Linked DNA regions of Homo sapiens: region 2 is linked to region 1. The links come from fine-mapping of genetic effects on gene expression. Tissue or cell type: B cells. Region 1 holds a variant in brackets; the other region holds the start of a gene. All regions are shown on one strand. Distances are from middle to middle.

Region 1 (8,105 bases):
GGACTTCCTCCACCGACCGGGGCTGTCCCAAAGCCTCCTCTGAAGGCTTTCCCTAGGGTGGCTCTCCTCAATCATCCTGTCACCTCTTTCTTTGCCAAGCTCTTCCAAGGCCCTTAGTGGTTTCTGGGAGGTCTCACACAGAGGGGCTGGAAAAGGGCTCATTAGCCCAGATCAGCTGTTCTCAAAGCAAGATCCAGGGCCCCCGAGGGTCCCTGAGACCCTTTCAGGGGGTCCTCACGGTCAAAACTATTTTCATAATAATATTGACACTTTTTTTTTTTGTATGGGTGATTTTTTTATTTTCATCCTCTCAGGAATTTTCCAGAGACTACTGGCATGGGAGAAAGATCACCTTGATGGCTAATGGAACGTGTGCATCTGTATTCTTGTGTTTTATAACTTTTTCTCAGTCTTAATTTCTAATACAATAAATATGGATAGATACAATCCACAATGAGCAAGTTATTTGGGGTCCTCAATAACTTTTAAGGGTGTAGGCTGGGCACGGTGGCTTACACCTGTAATCCCAGCACTTTGGGAGGCCAAGGTGGGAGGATCACCTGAGGTTGGGAGTTCGAGACCAGTGTGACCAACATGGAGAAACCTGGTCTCTACTAAAAATACAAAATTAGCCGGGCGTGGTGGTGCATGCCTTGTAATCCCAGCTACTCGGGAGGCTGAGGCAGGAGAATCGCTTGAACCCAGGAGGCGGAGGTTGAAGTGAGCCCGAGATCGCGCCACTGCACTCCAGCCTGGGCAACAAGAGCAAAACTCCACGTAAAAAAAAAAAAAAAAAAAAAGTGTACAGAGATCCTAAGACCAAAAAGTTTGAGAACCACTAGCCCAGACGAAGCTCTAACTGATGAGAATTACTAATTTGCTATATGAGTGGGGGCTGCCTATGGATGGGGAGGAGATGGGGAGAAAAGAAAGAGCTGGGGGAAGGGGAATGGGGAGGAGATGGGGAGAAAAGGAAGTGCTGGGGGAAGGGGAATGGGAAGGGAGGAGGAGGGAGGGAGAAACAGCAGAAGGGGAAGGAAGGAGACCAGGAGAGAGGTGGAACAGGGAGACAGAGGAAGAGGAGATGAGGAATGGGGGAAGATTGAGAAGGGTTAGAAAAAGGAGTCCGGATGAATGAGGAGAGGGGGAGGGGGCAGAGAAGAGGAAAGAGGAGATAGGAAGGAGAGAGGAGGCGATGGGAGGGAGGGAGGAGGTGATGAGAGGGAGGGAGGAGGGGTGACAGGAGGAAGGGAGGAGGAGATGGGAGGGAGGAGGAGATGGGAGGGAGGAGGAGATGGGAGGGAGGAGGAGATGGGAGGGAGGAGATGGGAGGGAGGAGGAGGAGATGGGAGGGAGGGAGGAGGAGATGGGAGGGAGGGAGGGGGAAATGGGAGAGAGGGAGGAGAGAGGGAGGAGGAGGGGAAGGGAAGAGAAAGAGGGAAGATAGGTGGAGGGAGAAGGGAGGGGGGCAAATAGGAAGGGGACTGAGGAGGACACAGGGAGAAGCTGGGAACTAACCCTTCCTGAAGATGTGCTAAAGGCTGAGGTAGGCACTTTACATATTTTAGTCCCATCCCATGTTACAAATGGGGAAACTGAGGCTGAGAAAAACTCAGATATTATCATATATTCTGTGACCGTGACAGAGGTGGGTGTGAATGAAGGCCAGCCCTCTTATGTCACCAAGGCATCCCTCTAACTCACAGAGGAGTCCCAGTATCGGTGGTGCCACCTTTCAGCCAGCTGGCCTGGCAACTATGAGAGCCCGGGACACAAAGGCCCTTACAACCCTGTGCTGTTTTAAGCCACTTATAACCTAGAGAAGGGTGCAAAGGAGGTAGAAGAGCGGGAAGAGGGCAGTGGCAACGGGATGCCCACCTCTGGCTCGCCTGGGAGAAGAGGGACGGCTGCCAGGGCCCCACCGGTGAGAGGCTGACCGCGCATTCTAAAGCACTGGACTTGGCTTCATGTCACAGATATTTCCCATAAATACCCATCACCCACACCTTTCTGCCTGAACTTTCTTTTTTCTGGCCCAGGAGGGGGCTGCCCAAGGCTCTACACCCCTGGGGGCCCATCTGTTTGGCCCCTTCACCACAATTGGTTTGGTAGGTTTATCCCCAAGTCCTCTGGAAAAAAGAAAAGCTGATTATAAAATGCACTCAGCATTATTTTCAATCTGCAAAATACAATCTATCCCATGGAGCTTACCCCTGAGTCTCCACATGCTGTCACATAGTCCAAATCAAGTATCTCATCAGCAAATCCCGACAGCACCCACTGCGAGAGCGCATGCTCACAGCGAAGGAGGCTTCCTGCCCATGCGGGGAGTGGAAGCATTCTCTGGAATACTTTCCCTGGGCCCTTAAAGTGGCTTTTTGGATTGGAAAGTCACAGTCTACTTTGCACATATCCTGAAGATGCTCTCCACCTCTCCAAACATGGAACCTGGAATGTGCTTCCCTGGGCCACCTTTCCTTCCTTTCTCGTGCCTTCCTGCACTTCTGGGAGCCGGAAGGCACAGTGCAGAGACAAAAAAAAAAATGGCTGTGGGAGAGAGGGTTGGGGATGCCACCACAAGGAGGCCAGCTGCACCAGGGGCCACTGTGGGACATTCTGGAGCAGAGCTCAGGAATCCCATGGTGCCCTGACCCCTTCAGCACCTGGCAGGAGCTGGCCAGACACTGGGCCCATTTCCTGAGCCCCTGCCCAGACTGGAATCTACTGGGACTAAAAAGCACTCTCTCTGGGCTCCCTGGAGGAAGGCAGAGGCCCTTCATTTTTCTCTCTCTACCCCAGACCCCAGTGTACAATAAAACCACCAGTAACTGCTCTGCAAATGATCAAATATAATTATTATGTTTATTTGAAGTGAGATGATGGAAAAGATGGCCTGGCTGATTTTGGACCGAGTGGCCCATCACGATACCTGAACAAGCAGTTGTGAGGGTGGGCCTGGCACACCCCTGGATGTTTACAGGAGCATCTGGTCCAGTCCTGTCTTATGGCTGTGCCCAGCTCCAGCTCT[G/C]GAAGAGTCTCTCTGAGGAGCAGGGCCTGGAGCTGGGCCTGCAAAGCCAGAGCTACCACTAGAAGAAGGGCTGGGCTGGAGCAGGGCCAGGAAAGGAGACCTGTCCAGGGGACAAGGTGCACGCAGCCTTCAGGTGCAGCCAGAACCTGCCGGCAGACCCCAGGCCACCGACGAGGCAGGCCTCACCAGGAATGACACCTGGTGTCTGAGGTGACCTTTTATTCCCCTAGGTGCATGCCATCTTTTTAAGTGAGAAGTTTTCTAAAGCAAAGAATAAGCATCTACATCTTACAAAAAAACAAAAAAAGGAAAAGAAGGGATCCTATAACAAAAAGCACTTCCTTCTTCTAGAAGGAATTCTGAGTCTCAAATAAAGAGAAGATCTTCTTTTAATATCGTTTTTCTATGTAAGAGGAGCAGACGTTATTATTCATGACTATCAATCAATCTGCATATGTAATTATAATTGCAATGCAATACATATGAATATAATTTTTTTTTTTTTTTGAGACGGAGTCTCGCTTTGTCACCCAGGCTGCAGTGGCTCGACCTCGGCTCACTGCAAGCTCCACCTCCCGGGTTCACGCCATTCTCCTGCCTCAGCCTCTCCGAGTAGCTGGGACTACAGGCGCCCGCCACCACGCCCGGCTAATTTTTTGTATTTTTTAGTAGAGACAGGGTTTCACCGTGGTCTCGAACTCCTGACCTCGTGATCCGCCCGCCTCGGCCTCCCAAAGTGCTGGGATTACAAGCGTGAGCCACCGCGCCCGGCCATGAATATAATTTATATGGACAAGATTCACTTTAACCTAAGTGTTTCCACTAATTCTACTAATAGGTTTTTAAATAAGTTTACTATCTTGTGTTCCCACACAGAAGACTTTTCTTTGCTCTCAGAAGCATTTGTTTACAAACACCATTGGCTTTCCCTTCAATTCAGAGAAAACGCCCTGTCCAAGTGGCACAGTGACATCATCATCATCCATGAGTCAAACCACCTGTCCTTTTTAGGCATTTCTCTGCGTCATTTACAGCAGTTCACCATAGACAAAAATGTTGTATCTGAAAAAAGACAATAGAACAGGAAGCTGAAAAAGATACTTTTACAATAAAAACACATTCTAAAAAAATGATTTTTGTCTAATTACATTTGGAATTGGAATTTGCTTCTATCACAGACCAGTCACCAGTCCTCAGTCCATAAAATCAGCACTTCCAGAGGAAGGTTCCAGGCATCACAGTGCACATCGAGAAATATCAGACTTTAAAGTGCTCTGAAAATGAATTGATTCAAAGAAATAATATGGAATATATTAACTGCTGAATTCTACTGGTGACAGAATGAGTTGAGGCTACTATAATTTAGAATAACCTTAAAAACAGATACATTTTAAAAAGTGTTCCAAAAGAAAAATACTGTACTTGAAGGTATTCTCGCAGTGCTGAAGGCTCACACTAGTGTATTTCCAGAGGTGACAGTTTTAATAGTCATATTGGAGACGCTTAGTGACCTGTGAGCCATGGGTTGCTCCCCTAAGCTACACTGCAATAAACTCTAAGCTCCTCTAGAAGTAATATCTATTTACATGTGAAGATTTCAAATTCTCAGGTATACATGAGTGCACTGTCAGAAGATGATTAGGCCCAGACCTGTGAAGACACAAACAGATAGTTTTTAGACCTTTGTAGTTAACAACTTATAAAACTTGAGCTTAAAGAGATAAAATTAGTCTATTCACACACATGCATGGGCATACATATATGTGTGTGTACACACACACACACACAAACATACACACTCCATCCAAAATAGGGTGCTCATGTGCCTTAGAAGGATAACACTGTACTCCTAGCAATGCAAAGGTGCTTCTTTGGACCTGATCTTCTCCTCCCTTAGTTAATTGTCTGTGGGGCATCTGCAGCCTCCTTACGGGCCTAGCTACTCTTCCAGATTGACAACCAAAACCATTTGAACCCATACAGCTCACCATATACATTAACATGACTACTCACTTAGGACACTCTTACCCAGGAAGATGAACTCACAGATAACTTTTTTATTTGTTTCAGGAATTTTGCAAAAATCCTTTTCTCTATCCTAACACTAGACTACTCAACTTACCCTCTTTAGAAAACACACCCATGTCTCAGGACAATATAGAGCATCAAATGACTATTTAGTTTTAAAGGGTTTGTTCGAAACCCTCCCCCACCCCTGCATCCAGCAATCCTAAAACTATTATGCCACAAAGTTGTCCAATCCTAATTAAGTGCCCCCCAACAAAGACCTGCCTTAAACCAGACCAAAAAAACCTCATGCATGCCTTTGTCATCCTCTTCTGAGATGCCACTACACCTCTACCAATTCTTGATGTTCCACACTGAGGTAAGCAATAAATTTAGCTTTGCTCTATGAATGGGCTACTTTTTTTTTTTTTTTTTGAGACAGAGTCTTGCTCTGTTGCCCAGCCTGGAGTGCAGTGGGATGATCTTGGCTCACTGCAACCTCTGCCTCCTGGGTTCAAGCGATTCTCCAGCCTCAGCCTCCCGAGTAGCCGGGACTACAGGTGCATGCCACCACGCCTGGCTGATTTTTGTATTTTTAGTAGAGACAGGGTTTCACCATGTTGCCCAGGCTGGTCTGGAACTCCTGACCTCAAGTGATCCGCCTGACTTGGCCTCCCAAAGTGCTACAATTACAGGCATAAGCCACCATGCCCAGCTTAAACAGGCTATTTTGGTAGTATTTTGGGTGAGCCAACACTCAACAAGGTTATGGAGCTCTCTTTGAGAATTTAATGAAAGCCACGAGGACAAAAGGCATACACCCCAAATTTGGCATATAATTTCAGGGGCTTCATTTCCAAGATTAAGCTATAGAAAAACCAAAAAAAAAAAAAAAAAAAAAAGGAAGAAAAAAGTAATAATTTCAGGGGCTTCACAGCCTCCTGGATTTGTGACCCTTGTCATCACAAGGTCAATAATCGTAATAAGAACCCTATACTATAGGAGGAGAGACTGGTTATCTGTGGTTTGCCAAAGGCTAGAATCACAAGAATCAGACTTTTAGGGTCAAAAGGAACTTTCTGGATGATCAAGCCTAACTATTCCCTCACCTACAGGCTGATACGCAGTTGTCGAATCTGTGCGAGAATACCTGCACTGATGCAGCACTCGCTACCTCTCCAGGCAACCCATTCCCTCTGTGGCTGTGGGCAGAGTGGAAATGAGAGCTCGGCGAGGCTGACCAGGCCCACCTGAGCTTACTCTGATAGCCTTCCCTCTGCTTCAGAAGGCCTGTCACCAGTCCTCTCTCCTCTCACACACAGGAAAACAGAAAACCATCCCTCTTACTCTGAGGGTATGATCCCATGATCCAGAGCAGAAAGCAGTCCCATCGGGGGAAACTCGTAGAGTGCTAACGCGGTTTTCATGTCCAAACAGGATGGAGACCCGGGACCCTTTGAGAACATCCCAGACGTTGATAGTGTAATCATTGTATCCAGCAAACAGCAGGCGACCTTGAAGCAGGGTGAGATGATAGCTGTTAAGCCAGTTCCTTGCTTCCTGTTTCTCATTACATGACTGTTACTCACTCATTCAGTAAGCAGTGATTCAGGCGCACTGAGTCCTAGGCACTGTGCTTTGCCTCAAGGATTCAAAGGGGAGAAAGCACAGTCCCTGTCCCTGTTGGAGGATGTGGGGCTGAAAGGAACAGATCACTGTAGCATCCCATGGTAACAGCCATAATGCAAGTGCTTTACACACGTAAAGTGCTATGGGACCAGAGAGGAAGGGGGATTAAGGAGGGCACTGCAGACACAAGTAAATTATTTTTAGTCATTTGCTAGTTAACAACTTGTAAAACTTGTTTAAAGAGAGAAAGTTAAAGTGACATTTGAGTTGGCTCTTGAGGGTTGAATCGGAGTCTGTCATGCAGAGAAGGCAGGGAAAAGATGTTCCAGGCAGTAGCAGGAACTTCACGTGCAGTTAGTCTAGGGATGTGTCTGGGGAAATGGAGTGGTCCAGGTAGCCAGCCTGTTACCTCTGCTTTAACTTTCTATTTTTCTTTCTTTTTTTGACATGATCCTTCTGGAGCTATGCTTTTTCACCAGCAGCTTCCCACAAAGGAGCCATGAGCTTCAAGGCACTGAGAAGGGACTCATTTTTTTTTTCCCTTTGAGTCAGAGTCTCGCTCTGTTGCCCAGGGTGGAGTGCAGTGGCACGATCTCAGCTCACTGCAAGCTCCATTTTCCAGGTTCAAGCGATTCTCCTGCCTCAGCCTCCTGAGTAGCTGGGATTACAGGCATGCGCCACCATGCCCAACCAATTTTTGTATTTTTATTAGAGACAAGGTTTCACCATGTTGGCCAGGCTGGTTTTGAACTCCTGACCTCAAGTGATCGCCTGTCTCGGCCTCCCAAAGTGCTGGGATTACAGGCGTGAGCCACAGTATCCCACCAAGAAGGGACTCTTGCTTCACCTCCACCTTACAGAAAAGTTCCCTTTGGGGCATGAAGAGAAGCAAAGGCTGGGGAGAAAATGCCTGAGAGCATTGTGGAAGTGAATTTCTGACACTTCATTGCCTTGAAGGACAGCATTAGGTGGGTACACAGCCTTCATTTCCCCCTGGAGTGAAGTTGCCTGGGGCAGGACAAAGTGGGAGGTCAGAAGCTCAGAGGAGGAAAACTGGTGCAAATATGGATGATTTCGCATACTGGTCCACAGGAAGCTCAGTTGATGAAAAGGAACTGAGCGATGATGGAGCGCTAGTTTCATTCTGGTCCTGTCTTACAGTCCTGGGAAAAGTTTCTGAAATAAAATCTTACCACTGAGGGAGAAGTCCACGCTGGATGCTCCAAATATGATGCTTTCTTTGGAATAGATGGCAACCTCCCTATCTGCCCGCAGGTCATAGAGGCGACACTGGGGAGCAAATAAATAAAGAAGCACTTACTTCTGGCTTCAGTTTGGTGACGTGATGACCACAGAGCTACAGGTAGGTGCTAGTGACTTGCGTAGTTTAAAAGATGAAGGAAAAACTTCTTAGTTTTCCCTACTGTTATTTCATCCTTTA
Region 2 (8,105 bases), 69 kb after region 1:
GGGATGCATTTATGGGGGAGGTGACAGTTGGGGACATTTCTGATGAGGAACGTCTGCCATGTGGAGCCCACCCTGGGGCTGGAGAGATAATGGGGGCTCATGAGTTGGGCTGAGCTCTTACAGCAAAGGGGCAGTCAGCACAGTTCGAGACCTCTGGGCAACAAAGGTGTACAGGGCATCCCTTAGGGACAACAGCTCGCAAGGAAACCAGCTACCAACTGCCACAGAGTGCCCAGCCCTCGCCTCTCCCTGGGAGGGAGGCAGGACATCTGTGTTACAGCTGAGGAAAAGCAGGGGGATTAAACAAGTTCAAGGTCAGCGGCAGAGCTGAGTCTGTAAGTAGCATGAATACACACTTTGGAACCCTATTTCCAAGCTAGCATGGTCAAGCTGCATGGTTTTGTCACAAAAGGTGAGTTAACAAAAAAGGGCCTGCCCTCCAGAGCCTGGCCCATGGTGGGGCTTGGTAACTGTTGCATCCCACTCCCCAGCCCTGTAAAGGCAGCCAGTAACAAGGTTGGGCTGAACACTCCCAGTAATAGCATTAGGACGGTGAGCCACAGGCTGTTAAGCAAGGGAGCAGTGTCATCCACGTGGATTATTCCAGCATTTGTGCTTCCAGAAGTAGGTCAGAGAGAGAGAGAGAAGGGACGGCAGGAAAACAAACTAGGTTAAGAGATTGCTATGTTCTGGAGAAGAGGAAATGAGCTGCGGACAGAGGAGCAGCTATGGGAATGGAAGGCGAGAGGAACCTATGGCACCAAGTGGAGGAGGAATAGAAGGATGGCTGGGAGGCACGGGAGAGAAAGACAAGTTGAAAAGATAGCCGATATTCCATATCTAGATAGAGGCAATGTTTTTCTTCTCAAACTAAATTTTGAATTTTTTCAAATTATAAAAGATGCTGATAATGTTCATTATAAATAACTGGAAACAGGGCCAGGTGTGGTGGCTCATGCCTGTAATCCCAGCACTTTGGGAGGCCAAGGCGGGTGGATCACTTGAGGCCAGGAATTTGAGACCAGCCTGGCCAACATAAGGAAACCTCATCTCTACTAAAAATACAAAAATTAGCCTGGCGTTGTGGTGCGCACCTGTAATCCCAGCTACTCGGGAGGCTGAGGCAGGAGAATTACTTGAAGCCGGGAAGCAGATGTTGCAGTAAGCTGAGATCATGCCACTGCACTCCAGCCTGGGTGACAGAGTGAGACTCCATCTCAAAGAAAATTAAAAATTAAAAATAAATAAATAAATAAGTGGAAACAGAAGGACACAAAAAGGGGAAAGTAAATCGCCCACATGCCCTACACCAACAACTGACCTGTTGGCATTTTATGTTTTCCTCTAGTATCTTTATAAGTATATATGTGTGTACTTTTTAACAAATTGGAATTATATGCCATATACTACTTTATATAATAGCATTTTCATCTTCACGTCATTGCATATTACTGGAAAACACCATTTTTTAACGGAGACTCCAATTTTTGAGTCCTATGGGCCTTAAGTCGTATCACATAGCTAGCATTTTAGACCTCACTGGTTAAACATGGGCAAGCTACAAACTAAATTTAAAGCATTTTTAAACTGTAAATATTATACATATGCATTGTAGAAAGTTTGGGGGAAAAAAAGATATAAGGAAGAAGATAATCACCTATAATCCCACCACTCAGAGAAACTTCTTTTTACATTTTGGTGTAGCAAGAATAGATTTGAGACCACTGAGGTCATACTGTTCATGTATACTGATTACATTTCTGTATCTTGATGTTTTTCACTTAGTATTTGTATCAGCTAAATTTTAGTACTTTGTTGTACTTATTGTCAATATCCTTTTTATGATGAGAGAATTTTTCACAGCTAGAGCCAATGTTTCGATGAGCATTTTGACAAGAAAGACAGAAATGCCCCATTTAACAAATTTTGACATGAAGTTGCTCTGCAGTAGTTCATAGAACTTCTCAAACCTTCCCCTAATAACTTTATGCCAAGCACAAACTTTCTTTGATATCTGTTTTACCTAAATATGTGACTTAAAAAATTACCACAGAAATACGTGTTTATTTTAAAAAGAACCAGTACCAAAGATGAAAAAGTAAAACTTGAATCCCCCATCACATGCCCTGCATTTTCACTGCCCTTAGTTTGTTGTTTATTCTTCCAGACTTTTCTGGCACAAACACATAGATACAGCTTTGGTAGTCATGCAAATAGGGCTACTTGCTTTCTTCATCTAACTTATTCTGTTAACACTTATAGATCAACCTTGTTTGGTAATAGGTTCAGCATTATTCTATGCTGTGGAGTGTCATAATTTATTAAACCAACTTCCGTGTTTGGATACATAGGGTATATCCAGTTTTTACTTTTAAAATACTGCTTCATTAACTCAATTAAAAATGGACAAAAGGACCTTCATACATTGCTGGTGGGAAGGTAAAGTGGGGTAGCCGTTTTCCAATGGTGCAGCTGTGGAAAACGGTTTGGCAGTTATTCAAAACTTAAATATACAGCTGTTACCATAAGACCCCGCAATCCTACTTCTAGATATATACCCAGGATACTTGAAAATGTATGTTCACTGGCTGGGCGTGGTGGCTCATGCCTGTAATCCCAGTACTTTGGAAGGCCCAGGCGGGTAGATCACCTGAGGTCAGCCTGGGCAACATGGTGAAACCCCATATCTACTATACAAAAATTAGCCAGGCGTGGTGGCAGGTGCCTGTAATCCCAGCTACTTGGGAGGCTGAGACATGAGAACTGCTTGAACTTGGGGGATGGAGGTTGCAGTGAGCCAAGATCGCGCCACTGAAATCCAGCCTGGGCAATGCAGTGAGACTCCGTCTCAGAACAAAAAAAAAGAAAATATATGTTCACATAAAAATGTACATACTAATTTTCATGGCAGCATTATTAGCCAAAAGTGAAAGCAACCCAAGTGTCCACCAACCGACAAATGAAAAACAAAATGTCTATCCCTCCAGTAGACTGCTATTCAGCAATAAAAAAGAATGACGTTCTGACACATGCTACAACATGGTCAAACCTTAAAAACGCTATCCTATGACAGAAGCCAGACACAAAAGGCCACATATTGTATGATTTATTTATATGAAGTGTACAGGATCAGCAAATCCATAGAGACATGAAGCAGATGAGTAGTTGCGAGGTGGAGGGAAGAGAGAATAAGGGGGAAGGAGGGAGCTGAGAGTGAGTGGCTGCTTAAGGGGTATGGGATTTCTTTTTCGGGGTGATGAAAATACTCTGGAGTCAGTGGCAATGGTTGCAAATCCTTGTAAATAAACTTAAAAAACACTGAAATATATGTTTTAAAATGATGGGTTTTAAAACATGAAACAAAACGTGGACATCATATCTCAATAAATTTTTTTTTTTTTTTTTTTAGACAGAGTCTTGCTCTGTCGCCCAGGTTGGAGTGCAGTGGCGCAATCTCGGCTCACTGTAAGCTCCGCCTCCCAGGTTCATGCCATTCTCCTGCCTCAGCCTCCCAAATATCTGGGAATACAGGCGCCCGCCACCTCACCCGGCTAATTTCTTGTATTTTTAGTAGAGATGGGGTTTCACCGTGTTAACCAGGATGCTCTCAATCTCCTGACCTCATGATCTGCCCGCCTCAGCCTCCCAAAGTGCTGGGATTACAGGCATGAGCCACCGCGCCCAGCCCAAAGATTATTTTTAAAATGGACAAAAGGCTTGTGTAGTCACTTCACAAATGAGGATACTTATATGGTCAATAAACATATAAAAAGGTGCTCATTATCATTAGTCATCATAGAAATACAAAGTAAAACTACGATGTGATACAACTACTTAGCCATCAGAAAACCTAAAAAGCCTGACAACACAAAGTGTGGGCAAGGATGCAGAGACTGGAACTGCCTTTCTCTGCTAGTGGGAGTATAAGTCGGTATAACCACTGTAGAAAACTGGTTGGTAGGAGCTACTAAAGTGAAACGGATATAGTCTATGACCAGGCAATTCTACTCGTGCATACATACACCACAGAAAATAATGCTTATTTCCTTAAAAAAAAAAAAAAAAAAAAAAAAAAAAAAAAAAAAAAAACATAAATGTCATAGCAGCTATTCATAGAAGGCCTAAACTTGAAAGACCCAAATGTTCACCAGTCACAGACGAAACTGTGAAATGAGCATAGAATAAAAAATAACTGATACACACAATGTGGATGTATCTCAGACTTACAACTAAAAACCTCTTTCTAACCCCATAAGCTGTACTCAGAGGCTTATGTTGCCATGTGTCACCTGGATCAAATTTTAAAACTGACTTAGTGATTTTAAGTATGCTTAATCTCTTTCCTGATGCCAATATTAATGTAAAAAATATTGAAATATTTCAATTTGAAATATTTGAAATTTACTATTTCAAAATAAATTCATGTGTATTGTAGAAAAATTAGATTCTACGGATTAACAACAACAAAACCCCTCACCCATGCTCCCACCGCACAGAAAGACCTGCTAACACTGTGCCCTGTACTCATCTGGATGCTTTTCTGAGCATTTCAAAAGCTGGAGTATTTTAACCGAATGTCAGCATGCACATACCTTCCAGAGTCAGCACTGGGAGCCACAGAGCAGATGGTGAGAGGTGAGGACCAGCGCGCAGCTTGAGGTGTGAAGCACGTCTCCCACTGGCTAATCTCCTTATCTTCTCTGGAGTGCTGCTCAGCTTGCTTCCTTCCTCCACAGCACTTCCATGCTCCCTGCTGGGCACGCACTGCCATCTGCATCCCTCACTCACCCCTGGAACCTGCCCAGCCCCTCTGTGGAGGGAGGCCTTGGCAGGTTTGACCTCTGTGTCTGCGCCCACTCACTGAGCAGCCCTCACATTCACCTGGGCCACATGTTCTTAACATTTCTCTATTTTGGTCTCCTTGCCACTGTCAGCTTTGTAGAACTGATCAAGACTGTGGGATGAGTGCCTCCCTTTCCCCATTTTTCCACACATAAACTCCTCAGCCTCCACAGGTCTCCCTGTCCCCAAACATGACCTACTTTTTCCCATGGTTGACTCCCCACCACACACACACAGTCCTCCAACGGGACTTTGCTCCTTCAGTTCTCTTCCCACCTCATCAGCAGTAGGATGAAGGCAGGGATGAGGAGGATGTGGCACCTGCCCTCTGGGGCTCACAGGCCTACAGAGGAAATGGGCAGCATTTCTGGCTTCCAGTCCAGGGTAAGTGCTATAAAACAGGCATAAATCCTGAGTTATGGAAGCCGAAAACCAACAGTGATGGCTCCTCATGGTGTGGGGAAGGTCTAGAAAGGGCATGGAGGCCGCAGCTCAGGATCAGAAACCCTGCCAATTCTCTGCCAAGTAGCCCCTCATTCTGACAGTGTGGAAGCGCCCTGGAGACACAGCCTAAGCCAGCACTTATGACATATTTACTTCTTCTCTAAACATTTTAATATACTTTAAATGAGATATTATGAATCTATAAAGATTCTAGCATCTTTCAGTATGACCGTAAAGAAAGGCATACAACTTGTACACTTAAGAGACATGTCATCTCCTCGCAATGAAAGAATCTGACCCAATTCATTTGGTAATTAATTTTATTGATTAAAGTATTACAAAGTTCTACTTTTCATTTTTTCATGTACAATGTATTGAAATGAACTAAACTCAATCACTTATAATATAAAAAGACATTATTATGTATTAGCAGGGTGATGCTTCATAATCATGTATTATTCCTACCTCTAAGACACCAGTCTGTATTATAGAATCACAGCTGTCACCTGTGACTGTCAGAAACAGAAGGTGCAATTGGGATTCTTAGGTTGGTGACAGAATAGCACTGGATCCACAGGCCAGAGACTAGGAGTGCTTATCAAATGAGGTTTTAGGCTCTGAAAGGAAGGAATGAGAAGGTGTGCCGGGACAAGGAATAGCCAGTTCCCATAAAACTTGGGAAACGTAGATTTCTCAAAAGTAGGGTCCGACACAATTTTTTAGTTACTTTTTGAGAAAATTTAAAAATAAATACATTGAAATGCTGATTAGAGAGCGAAAGTAATTTAGGTTGCTTTTTCAATCTGAGGTTGTTTTAAAAAAGTTATTGTATGAAAGGTATTAAAAAATAAAAAAATTATGGTGAATATGTTGGCAGGTAAGATTTGAAGTTCTTTCAGAGAAGATAAACGGCATGGCAATTAAGCTTTAATAATATATTAGTTTTAAATAGATATACATATAAAAATACTTCAAATGATTCATCTCGGATTGAACACTCTTAAAAATTAAAAGGGTCAGCCGGGCGCGGTGGCACACGCCTGTAATCCTAGCACTTTGGGAGGCTGAGGTGGGCGGATCACGAGGTCAAGAGATCGAGGCCATCCTGGCCAACATGGTGAAACCTGTCTCCACTAAAAATACAAAAATTAGCTGGGCGTGGTGGCAGGTGCCTGTAGTCCCAGCTACTCAGGAGGCTGAGGCAGGAGAATTGTTTGAACCCAGGAAGCGGAGGTTGCAATAAGCCGAGATCATGCCACTACACTCCAGCCTGGCGATAGAGCGAGACTCCGGAGTCTCAAAAAAAAAAAAAAAAAAAAATTTAGAAGGGTCTAAAATAAACATTTTTAAATGCAGGGCATTTTCAGTAAAAAGAGTTCATGAAAACCTTCTGTCCCCAGCAGGCATGGGGCAAGAGAACTTTTGGCAGGTCACGGTGGCCAAACGGGATTTTTTCCTGGAAGACTCAGCACTAGAATCCACTTGCAGCTTTGTAAATGTACTCAGGTTTCACATGAACCTTAGAAAACTTGGAAGCCACTGTGTCCCCAGATCTCACTCCCTCCTGGTAGAGCCCTGCCACAAGACAGAACAGATCAAGAGGCACGTGGAAGAAAATATGAGCCCTCCAGGAATTTCAGTGAAAACCAGCTGAGATTCGAGAGTGAGACATGGCTTTTCCAAATACAGCTGGTGTGTGTGAATTCTTACAAAATTACAGGAGCAGCATTGTCACTGTGAGTGAGAGATGATGTGGTCCATTTGAGAAAAGTCTGTTTTCTTCCTTAAATCACATTCCAATTTCCACTGCCAATTAATAAAACACATCCCTCATATTGAACCTTCACTTAGCTTTTGAAGAAAAAGTGCATTGACTTTTTCTCCTGCTATAACCTATTCAGAAAGCCTAGCTTGAAACTGCTGGGGATCTGAATCATTTCCAGAGCATGTGGAGAGGGGGTAAAAGGAAATGTGACTTGAAAGAGATATTTGGTATCCAACATCAGCTGTGATGAATCCTCCCGGCTATTTAGGAGAGCCTGAAATTAGAATCAGAGGAAAAATGAGTAAGGAAACTAACATGTTCTGCTTTACTGCTACCTGAAAGTCAAGGCAAAACACAGCTATCTCTAGTGGAGAGCTCCTTGCACCATCACATGAAATGACATACATGAGAACTTTTTAACAACAGCACAATTCCAAAGTCTATCCAGGGCTTCCAGATCAGCTCTCAGAACAATTAACTTGTCCTGTTTCACTTCAGAAGTTAATTTCCCATGGGATGAGTTGACCATAAATCTGTTTTCTATTCTAATCTATTCTCATGGCATAATTCTAAGGTCAAACATGAGTAGATTTCAAGTATTACATTTTTATTGAACCCATCTTTCTTCTTCATTCATGGGTTTGCAACCTTTTTGGTCTCAGGACCGCTTTATACTAAAACATGACTGAGGCCCCAAAAGCTTTTGTGTATATGGGTATATTGGCATTTGCCATATTAGTAATTAAATATACATTGTGTATATGTGTATATCGGTATTTGCCATATTAGTAATTAAAATGATTTATTAATTCATTAAAATAAGCTCTACACATGTTAAACATAAGTTTCCAAAACAAAGAAAATTTAGTGAGAAGTGGTATTTTCTATTTTTGCAAATCTCTTTCATGTCTGACTTAATATATTATCATATATAACCATATATTATATACGCCATATTTTAATATATATGCTATATTATCATATATACGATATATCATATATATCTGCTTCTGCATTCAATCTGTTGTGATATGTTATTTTGGTTGAAGTACAC

Which allele goes with the higher level. Positions count from the first base shown, and alleles are read on the strand shown. Sizes are in standard deviations (SD) of each study's normalised expression.
In carriers of allele G in region 1, the expression in B cells of the gene that starts at base 4,663 in region 2 tends to be higher than with C alone (large effect, 0.89 SD a copy in Fairfax 2012).

What was found. PIP is the estimated chance that this variant, and not a neighbour inherited with it, causes the effect.
Region 2: GNB5 starts here. The variant in region 1 is fine-mapped to the expression of GNB5 in B cells (Fairfax 2012, PIP 0.95). The same link has a PIP of 0.9 or more in monocytes after LPS.

The regions. Positions count from the first base shown.
Region 1 is chr15:52,118,091-52,126,195 of GRCh38, forward strand. GNB5 (G protein subunit beta 5) reads right to left here. Exons shown (of 13, transcript NM_016194.4): 11 at 7,858-7,954; 12 at 6,383-6,549; 13 at 1-4,678. The coding sequence ends at 4,667. Among named protein-coding and RNA genes, the nearest start is that of BCL2L10, 9.4 kb to the left of the region's middle. The variant G/C (reference allele first, on the strand shown) is at 3,029.
Region 2 is chr15:52,186,730-52,194,834 of GRCh38, forward strand. It overlaps GNB5 (G protein subunit beta 5), which reads right to left and starts at 4,663. Exons shown (of 13, transcript NM_016194.4): 1 at 4,593-4,663. MYO5C (myosin VC) reads right to left here. Exons shown (of 41, transcript NM_018728.4): 41 at 5,593-7,325. The coding sequence ends at 7,173. The region is part of intron 2 of CERNA1 (competing endogenous lncRNA 1 for miR-4707-5p and miR-4767); the gene reads left to right. RefSeq lists an enhancer at 4,761-5,260.